Regions from separate parts of the Homo sapiens genome. Here region 2 is linked to region 1. Evidence: fine-mapped expression QTL. Tissue or cell type: transverse colon. Region 1 holds a variant in brackets; the other region holds the start of a gene. All regions are shown on one strand. Distances are between the middles of the regions.

Region 1 (4,391 bases):
AGCTCCAAACCTACCTGTTGCATATACTGTCACCAGAAAACTGATTAAAAGTCCACGCCCAGGCTGGGCACAGTGGCTCACACCTGTAATCCCAGCACTTTGGGAGGCCAAGGCAGGCGGATCACAAGGTCAGGAGATCGAGACCATCCTGGCTAACACAGTGAAACCCCGTCTCTACTAAAAATATAAAAAATTAGCTGGGCGTGGTGGCGAGCACCTGTAGCCCCAGCTACTCCGGAGGCTGAGGCAGGAGAATGGCATGAACCTGGGAGGCGGAGCTTGCAGTGAGCCAAGATCGAGCCACTGCACTCCAGCCTGGGCAACAGAGCAAGACTTTTCATCTCAAAAAAAAAAAGAAAAAAGAAAAAAAAAAGTCCATGCCTGGCCAGGCACAGTGGTTCACAACTGTAATCCCAGCACCTTGGGAGGCTGAGGTGAGCTGATCACTTCCAGACAAGCCTGGCCAATATGGCGAAACCCTGTCTCTACAAAAAAATACAAAAATTAGCTGGGCGTGGTGGTGCACACCCCTAATCCCAGCTACTTGGGAGCCTGAGGTGAGAGGATCAACTGAACCCAGGAAGTGGAGGCTGCAGTGAGCCAAGATCACACCACCCCACTCCAGCCTGGGTGATGGAGACAGACATGGTCTCAAAAAAAATAAAATAAAATAAATGTCCAGGCCTCCTGAAAAGCCAGGATAGCCCTCAAGGACAGAAGGAGAAGCATTTTTTAGCAGCCACCATTTCCAAAGTGGAGCTTGCTATGCTCTTTAATACACAAATGTGGGAATAAAAGATGAATTTAATTAAGTAGATGTAATTTACTCAGGAAGACCACAAATTCCTTAACATTCTTTACAATTATAAAATTAACGGCTTTTTTATTATCAATAAATTACTTCCTATTGCTCCCTAAATCACCTCCATAAAACCAAATATTAAGCTGTTTGTGTTACATTTCCTGTGATGCCTTTTAAAAACATTTTGGGCTGGGTGCAGTGGCTCACGCCTGTAATCCCAGCACTTTGGGAGGCCAAGATGGGTGGATCACGAGGTCAGGAGATCGAGACCATCCTGGCTAACACAGTGAAACCCCGTCTCTGCTAAAAATACAAAAAAAAATTAGCCGGGCGTGGTGGCGGGCGCCTGTAGTCCCAGCTACTCAGGAGGCTGAGGCAGGAGAATGGCATGAACCTAGGAGGTGGAGCTTGCAGCGAGCAGAGATCGCTCCACTGCACTCCACTCCGGCCTAGGTGGCAGAGCGAGACTCCAAAAAAAAAAAAAAAAAAAAAAAAAAACAAAAAAAAAAAACTGACAACAACAACATTTTGGGCCAGGCTCAGTGGCTCACACCTATAATCCCATATAATCCTAGCACTTCGGGAGGCTGAGGTGGGTGGATCACCTGAGGTCAGGAGTCAGCCTGACTAACATGGTGAAACCCCACCTCTACTAAAAATACCAAATTTAACCAGGCGTGGTGGCTTGTGCCTGTAATCTCAGCTAATTGGGAGGCCGAGACAGGCGAATTGCTTGAACCCAGGAGGCAGAGGTTGCAGTGAGCCAAGATCGCGCCATTGCACTCCAGCCTGGGCAACAAGAGCAAAACTCAATCCCCAAAAAAAAAAAAAAAAAATTGATTCAATCTGAAAACATCTTTTTGCCTCATAGTTTTTTGTTTTGTTTTGTTTTGTTTTTAGAATTAGTGCTCTATCAAGGGTTTTTTTTTTCTTTCTCCTGACTATATGACTTTGAGCTATTTTTACTGAGGCTTAAAATTTATTTCAAGACTACCTGAAGACTTCTACTTCCAGCACTATGATGGACCAGAATCCCTGAAGGGCCTCTCTTTTCAAAATCTCAGGATCCTTCATAAAACTAGTTTTTATGCACAGAGAGTCGCAGCAAATGCAGAAAGAAAAAATTTTAAGGCTTCCCCTTTAATCAAAAATGTTTTTACATTAAAAAGTACTACTCAAAGAAGATATGCAGATGACAAACATA[C/T]GAAAAGATGCTCCACATCATATGTCATCAGAGAAATGCAAGTCAAAACAAGGAGATGCCATTAGGCCAGGCTTGGTGGCTCACACCTGTAATCCCAGCACTTTGGGAGGCCGAGGCGGGTGGATCACCTGAGGTCAGGAGTTTGAGACCAGCCTGGTCAATGTGGTGAAAACCTATCTCTACTAAAAATACAAAAAAATTAGCTGGGCGTAGTGGCAGTCGCCTGTAATCCCAGCTACTCGGGAGGCTGAGGCAGGAGAATCGCTTGAACCTGGGAGGCAGAGGTTGCAGTGAGCCGAGATCGTGCCATTGCACTCCAGCCTGAGCTACAGAGGGAGACTGTCTCAAAACAAAACAAGAAACAAAAAAACAAGGAGATACCATTATTTGCCTATTAGAATGGCTAAAATCCAGAACACTGACACCACCACATGCTGGTAAGGATATGGAGCAATGGGATCTCTCCTTCATTGTTGGTGGGAATGCAAAATAGGACAGCCATTTTGGAAGGCAGTTTTGCAATTTCTTACAAAGCTAAACAACCTGTTACCATCCAATCTAGCAATTGTGCTTTTTGGTATTCACCCAAAGGAGTTGGAAACTTATGTCCATACAAAAACCTGCACATGGAATTTAGAGCAACTTTACTCATAATTGCCAAAACCTGGAAGCACCCAAGATGTTCTTCAGTGGGTGAATAGATAAATAAATTGTGGTACATCCAGGCAATGCAATATCATTCAAGCTCAAGCCATGAAAAGACATGGAGGAAACTTAAATGCATTTTACTAAGTAAAAGAAGCCAGTCTGCAAAGCCTACATACTGTATGATTTCAATTATATAACATTCTGGAAAAGGTAAAACTGTGGAGACCGTAAAAGGATCAGTGGTTGCCAGCGGTTGGGGGGAAGGGAGGGATGGAAAGGAAGAATTTGAGAGCAGTGGGATTATTCTGTGTAATACTACAAGGGTAGATACATGTCAGTATACATTTCTCCAAATCCATAGAGTGTAAACACCAAGTGAATCTTTTTTTTTTTTTTTTTTCAAGACAGAGTCTCACTCTGTAGCCCAAGCTGGAGTGCAATGGTGTGATCTCAGCTCACTGCAATCTCCGCCACCCAGGCTCAAGTGACTCTCATGTCTCAGCCTCTCGAGTAGCTGGGATTACAGGTGCCCGCCACCATGCCCAGATAATTTTTTTGATTTTAGTAGAGATAGAGTTTCACCATGTTGCTTAGGGTGGTCTCCAACTCCTGAGCTCAGGCAAAAGGGTTTATTACGAGAATTTAATACAGTAAGATTACTAGGCCACAAGCTCCGTGGCAAAAAAAAAGACTGTGTCTACATTATCCACTATGTATCCCTAGTGAACAGAACATGGCTGGCAGGTAGTTGGTTCTGAAATGCCAAGTCCCCTTCCTTCCAAAACAGTACAGTCTATGTGAGTGGTTTTTCGGTGTTGTTTTACTTTTGATTTTTGTCTGGTTGGCTTTGCATTTTATTATTTTATTTATGTTGAGGCAAAGTCTCACTCTGCTGCCCAGGCTGGAGTACAGTGGTGCAATCATAGCTCACTGTAGCCTGGAACTACTGGGCTCAAGCAATCCTTCTGCCTCAGCCTCCCGAGTAGCTAGGACTACTATCTAGGTGGGTGCCAACACATTGGCTATTTTTTTCTTTTTTTTCTGTAGAGACGGGGTCTCACTATGTTGCCCACACTGGTCTTGAACTCCTGGCCTCAAATGATCCTCCCACCTCAGCCTCCCAAAGTGCTGGGATTACAGGTGTGAGCTACCAGGCCTGGACAAGGTTTTTGTTTTTTAGATTGACATTTTACCCTCGCATTGACTATTTGTAACAACATGGAAGAAGTAACTTAACTTCTCTGTGTTCAAGTTCTTAATGTGTAAAACAACACCAGGTTAGGGTATATAATTTCTTCATGCCTATAGTTTAACACTATACCCTACATATTAATCTTTTCAAAATGCAGACAATAAAGTAAGCATATTTTTGTTGCACAAAAATGCAAATTCAAGTCATATATTCATGGACACCCTCCAAATAAGGATAATAACCAGCTAACGCGTGTCTGAGATGGTCAGAACCCTGTTCCGTGACGGCACCGCAGGGGGACGCGCCATGCGGTGAGGGTGCTCCACGCCAGTGCCTTTGCTTCTGGGCACGCTGCAATGGCTTCTTTCCCCTGTCCTTGACCTCCCTCACTCTCAGCCTTTCTTTGGTTCCCGTGACTACCATCCCTAAAACAGCCCTCCGCATTCTTAGCACTCAGCATTAAGTAAATTCATGCACTCTCACACCTTTAACTAGTACCGCTGTCACAGTTAATAATAACCACATAAACAGCTCCAGTTCTGTCC
Region 2 (4,391 bases), 58 kb after region 1:
ATTGCCTTGCTGAGAAGGAAAAAAGAAAATTTTATAGTTGAGTGCTATTTCTTTTGCGGCACCAAAACTTTATTTATAATGCTGGCAAGCCTAAAATTTGTAGGTCAAGTTAGAGACCCAGGAAAGAGCTGAAGGCAGTCTGGGGGCAGGATTCCTTCTTCCTCAGAGGACCTTAGTCTTTTCTCTTATGACCTTCCCTTGACGGGATGAGGCCAACCCACCTTGTGGAGGACCAACTGCTTTACTCAAGTCTAATTTAACTGTTAATCACATCTTAAAAAATACCAGCTATCATAGTACTCCAGAACAAAGGCAGTCAGTGTCTCTGCTCACAAAACACGGGAAAGTGCAGGTGACCCATGGAGAATTGTCCCCCAACACTATGTTTTTTCTTTTTTTGGATGGAGTTTCGCTCTTGTCACCCAGGCTGGAGTGCAATACCACCATCTTGGCTCACTGCAACCTCTACCTCCTGGGTTCAAGAGATTCTCCTGCCTTAGCCTCCTGAGTAGCTGGGATTTATTACAGGCGCCTGCCACCTCGCCGGGCTAATTTTTGTATTTTTAGTAGAGACAGGGTTTCACCACGTTGGCCAGGCTGGTCTCCAACTCCTCACCTCAGGTGATCCGCCAGCCTCAGCCTCCCAAAGTGCTGGGATTATAGGCATGAGCCACTGCGCCCGGCCAACACTACTTATTTTATAAAAACTCATTAATTACTGGTGTCTTTAGACTCCCTCTGTCCCTCCCCTCCATCCCCAACATTTACTTTTAAAATTTAAGACAAAACTTAAACATTAAACAATTATGAATTTAATTCCCCCATTTATATTACATTGATTAAGCTTTACACTATGACCCAGGTTCTAGGTGGTTGGGACACAATGGTTCAATCCCTGTCTAGTAAATAAAACGGACACCTTAAGCGCTACAATCAAGGTGCGCACGGGGTGCTACAGAACAATACGCAGACAGGAGGAGGTGGGGGGAAAGGTGAGACTTCCCAGGCAGGTGTCATCCCAGAATAACTTTTACACAGGGTGACTAAGCGAGTTAGTGACTGCGCGGAAAACGGGCTTCCAAGGTTCACAAGGCTCGTGCTGCGGCTCCGGGAGTTATGTCACAGTAAGCTTACTATCATCCTTTGGGCATCTGCTTTACGGATGAGTTCATCAGGATTTAAAGGATCTTGGTTCCATATCCTTCCCCTTCCTCACAGAGGCCGCCAGCCCGGAGCCCCTCTAGGCCCTCCTCCCTCCTGCATCTACTGGCCGCGAGCCTTTCCCTCCCCGCCCCCTTCACACAGGCCGCCCCCAGCCTCCCAACCCCCCGGTTCCGTTCCACGGGAGGCCCCGGCCTCCCTGCCCTCTCCTCCACCGTTCTACCCGCATCGCCCGGCTTCCCGCAAGCCGCTGGCACCGTCCCCTCAACACCCTCCGCCCACCGCCACTCCCTTCCACTGAGGGGGACCGGGCTGCCTTCTCTCTGACCCGCCGTTCTCCGCCCCCACCCACTTCCCCAGGCCTCCCGCACCACCCCCTTCCCGCCGCGCTCTCTCCCGCCCCCGCGCTTCCGGCCCCGCCCGCCCCCGCGCGGAGGACTGTGGGAGCGGCTTCCTTGGATTCCGCGCTTGGCAACGGCTCGGCGTCGCGCTTTGGCCAACCGCTGCGTCGTCCCTGGGCCCGAATAACTGTCGCCCGCTTCCCTCAGCGTGAGGTAGGAGAAGGGCGCTGGGGCCTAGTGCCTCAGGGCCCCTGGCAGCCGTGCCCCTGCGGCGTCCTGTGTGGCGCATCCCGCCGAGGGCCTCTTCGCCCGTCTCCTGCCCGCCCCTGTCGGCCCCGGGGCGGTCTGAGGCGGGGCCCCAGATGGACTCGGCCTGCCCCTGCTTTTCTTCCTCAGGCTCCCGAGTTGTCTACTCAGAAACGCGGGCGTTGTTTCTCACATCGGTGTCCCCAGCTCACAGGCTTTTCTTGCTCCTCTGAACTGGGACGGGCGTCGCTGACCGCTTGGCGATGTCCCAAGTCCCAGTCACGCCTGACGGGGAAACTTAAAACCCAGTTAGATTACTGCGCCAGCTCTGGAATCGCACAGCAGAGATGGTGCACATCGCTCTTTAATTTTCTTGTTAGGTGAAGCACTTCAAATTGCCTGATGAAAGTTGAATCAGGAATGAAGATAAAAGTACACAACAATGCAGAAAGCGGTACTTAGCCTCACAAAGATGGAAACATTCCAAAAACGTGAAGTACTGTTGTCCCAAGATTCTTTCTAAGCCTAAAATTACACTTTTACTAGTCCGATTTTCTGGTTGTGAGTTTTTTTTGTTTGTTTTTTTTTTTTCGAGAAACTGCAGTAGGCTTCTTGGAAGTAGACCAAGGGTGTCCAATCTTTGGCTTCCCTGGGCCACATCGGAAGAAGAATTGTCTTGGGCCACACATGAAATTCACAAACACTAAGGTAGCCGATGAGCTTTAAAAAAAATCGCAAAAAAGAATCTCATAATGCTTCCAGAAAGTTTACGAATTTGTGTTGGGCCACATTCAAAGCCGTCCTGTGCCACGTGCGGGCCGGGGTTGGAAAAGCTTGAAGTAGACTGTCCATAGTCAGTAGAAGAGTATTAAAAAACATACCTTTCACTTAAAAAAAAAAAAGGTTTTGCCAGCATTTGATTTATATTAAACATAGGTGGCATCATCCCCAGATTATTTCAACATGGAAAAGTTTGTTACATGTATAAGCTGCTTTGGAAATTGCCTGGAGAATCCAGAAACCCTGGGTTGTATAACAACAGTTGTTCTGCCACCCATAGCTATTAGCCATGCTTGATTCCCTTCAACTTTCCTGGCCTCACTTTCCACATCTTTTAATATTTGTATGTTCCACAAGATGTCTATTCAACTAAAGTCTCAAGTCAAACCTTTTAAAAATCTGGTTACAACCTAGCAGAAAGGATTTCTCATTCTAAAAGTTGCTTCCTTCTATAACTTATGTGTCAACTAAGCTGACTTAAATAGGGTTCATAATCAGAAATTATGGTTCAGAATAGTGGTTCTCAAAGTGGTCCCCAGACCAGTAGCCTCAGCATCACTTGGGTTTAAGAACCACTGGTTTAGTATTATCTGAGCTAAAGCTTTTAATTAAAAATATTTTATATATCTTTTACCAGTGACTTTTAATACCTTTTTTTTTCTTTTTGAGACGGAGTCGCACGCTCTGTTGCCCAGGCTGGAGTGCAGTGGCGGCAATCTCGGTTTACTGCAAGCTCCGCCTCCCGGGTTCATGCCATTCTCCTGCCTCAGCCTCCCGAGTAGCTGGGACTACAGGCGCCCGCCACCATGCCCAGCTAATTTTTTGTATTTTTAGTAGAGACGGGGTTTCACCGTGTTAGCCAGGATGGTCTCGATCTCCTGACCTCGTGATCCGCCCGCCTCGGCCTCCCAGAGTGTTGGGATTACAAGCGTGAGCCACGACGCCTGGCCCTTTTAATAACCTTTTGAAGCTATTTTGGAATGCCATTTCTATGTGGGTGACATTTGCCCTCATAGTAGTTAATTTTCATCTTCAAAAAGTAATGAGAAATTAACTCAAAATGGATCAATGACCTAAATATAAGAGCTAAAACTGTTAGAAAAAAAGCATAGGTATAAATATTCTTGACCTTAGATTAGGCAGTTCTTTCTTAGATATGATACCAAAAGTACGTGCAACCAAAGGAAAAATAAATTGTATATCATCAAAATTTAAAACTTTTGGCCAGGCGTGGTGGCTCACGCCTGTAATCCCAGCACTTTGGGAGGCCGAGCCGGGCGGATCACGAGGTCAGGAGATCGAGACCATCCTGGCTAACACGGTGAAACCCCGTCTCTACTAAAAATACAAAAAATTAGCCGGGCGTGGTGGCGGGCGCCTGTAGTCCCAGCTGCTGGAGAGGCTGAGGCAGGAGAATGGCGTGAACTCGGGAGGCGGAGCTTTCAGTGAGCCGAGATCGCGCCACTGCACTCCAGCCTGGGTGACAGAGCGAGACTCCGTCCCAAAAAAAAAAAAAATTTTTTTAAACTTTTGTGCTTCAGAGGATAGTACAAAGAATGTAAAATGATGTACAGAATGGGAGAAAGTATTTGTAAATCATTTATATAATGTTTAGTATCAGGAATATATACAGGATCCTTATAATTCATGTGATAACCTGATTTTTGGGAATGAGCTGGCCGGGCGCGGTGGTTCACGCCTGTAATCCCAGCACTCTGGGAGGCCGAGGTGGGCGGATCACAAGGTCAGGAGATCGAGACCATACCGGCTAATACGGTGAAACCCCATCTCTACTAAAAATAAAAATAAAAATAAAAATAAAAAAATTAGCCGGGCTTGGTGGCGGGTGCCTGTAGTCCCAGC

The links. PIP is the estimated chance that this variant, and not a neighbour inherited with it, causes the effect. A credible set is the group of variants that fine-mapping cannot tell apart.
Region 2: IFT88 starts here. The variant in region 1 is the best candidate, but not a certain one, in a credible set for the expression of IFT88 in transverse colon (GTEx, PIP 0.62).

What each region holds. Positions count from the first base shown.
Region 1 is chr13:20,507,576-20,511,966 of GRCh38, forward strand. All of the region lies in intron 2 of CRYL1 (crystallin lambda 1), which reads right to left. Among named protein-coding and RNA genes, the nearest start is that of CRYL1, 16 kb to the right of the region's middle. The variant C/T (reference allele first, on the strand shown) is at 2,007.
Region 2 is chr13:20,565,542-20,569,932 of GRCh38, forward strand. It overlaps IFT88 (intraflagellar transport 88), which reads left to right and starts at 1,616. Exons shown (of 26, transcript NM_006531.5): 1 at 1,616-1,715. It overlaps LOC105370103 (a long non-coding RNA gene), which reads right to left and starts at 1,488. Exons shown (of 6, transcript XR_941725.3): 1 at 1,135-1,488; 2 at 1-9. RefSeq lists silencers at 1,316-1,725, 1,821-2,009.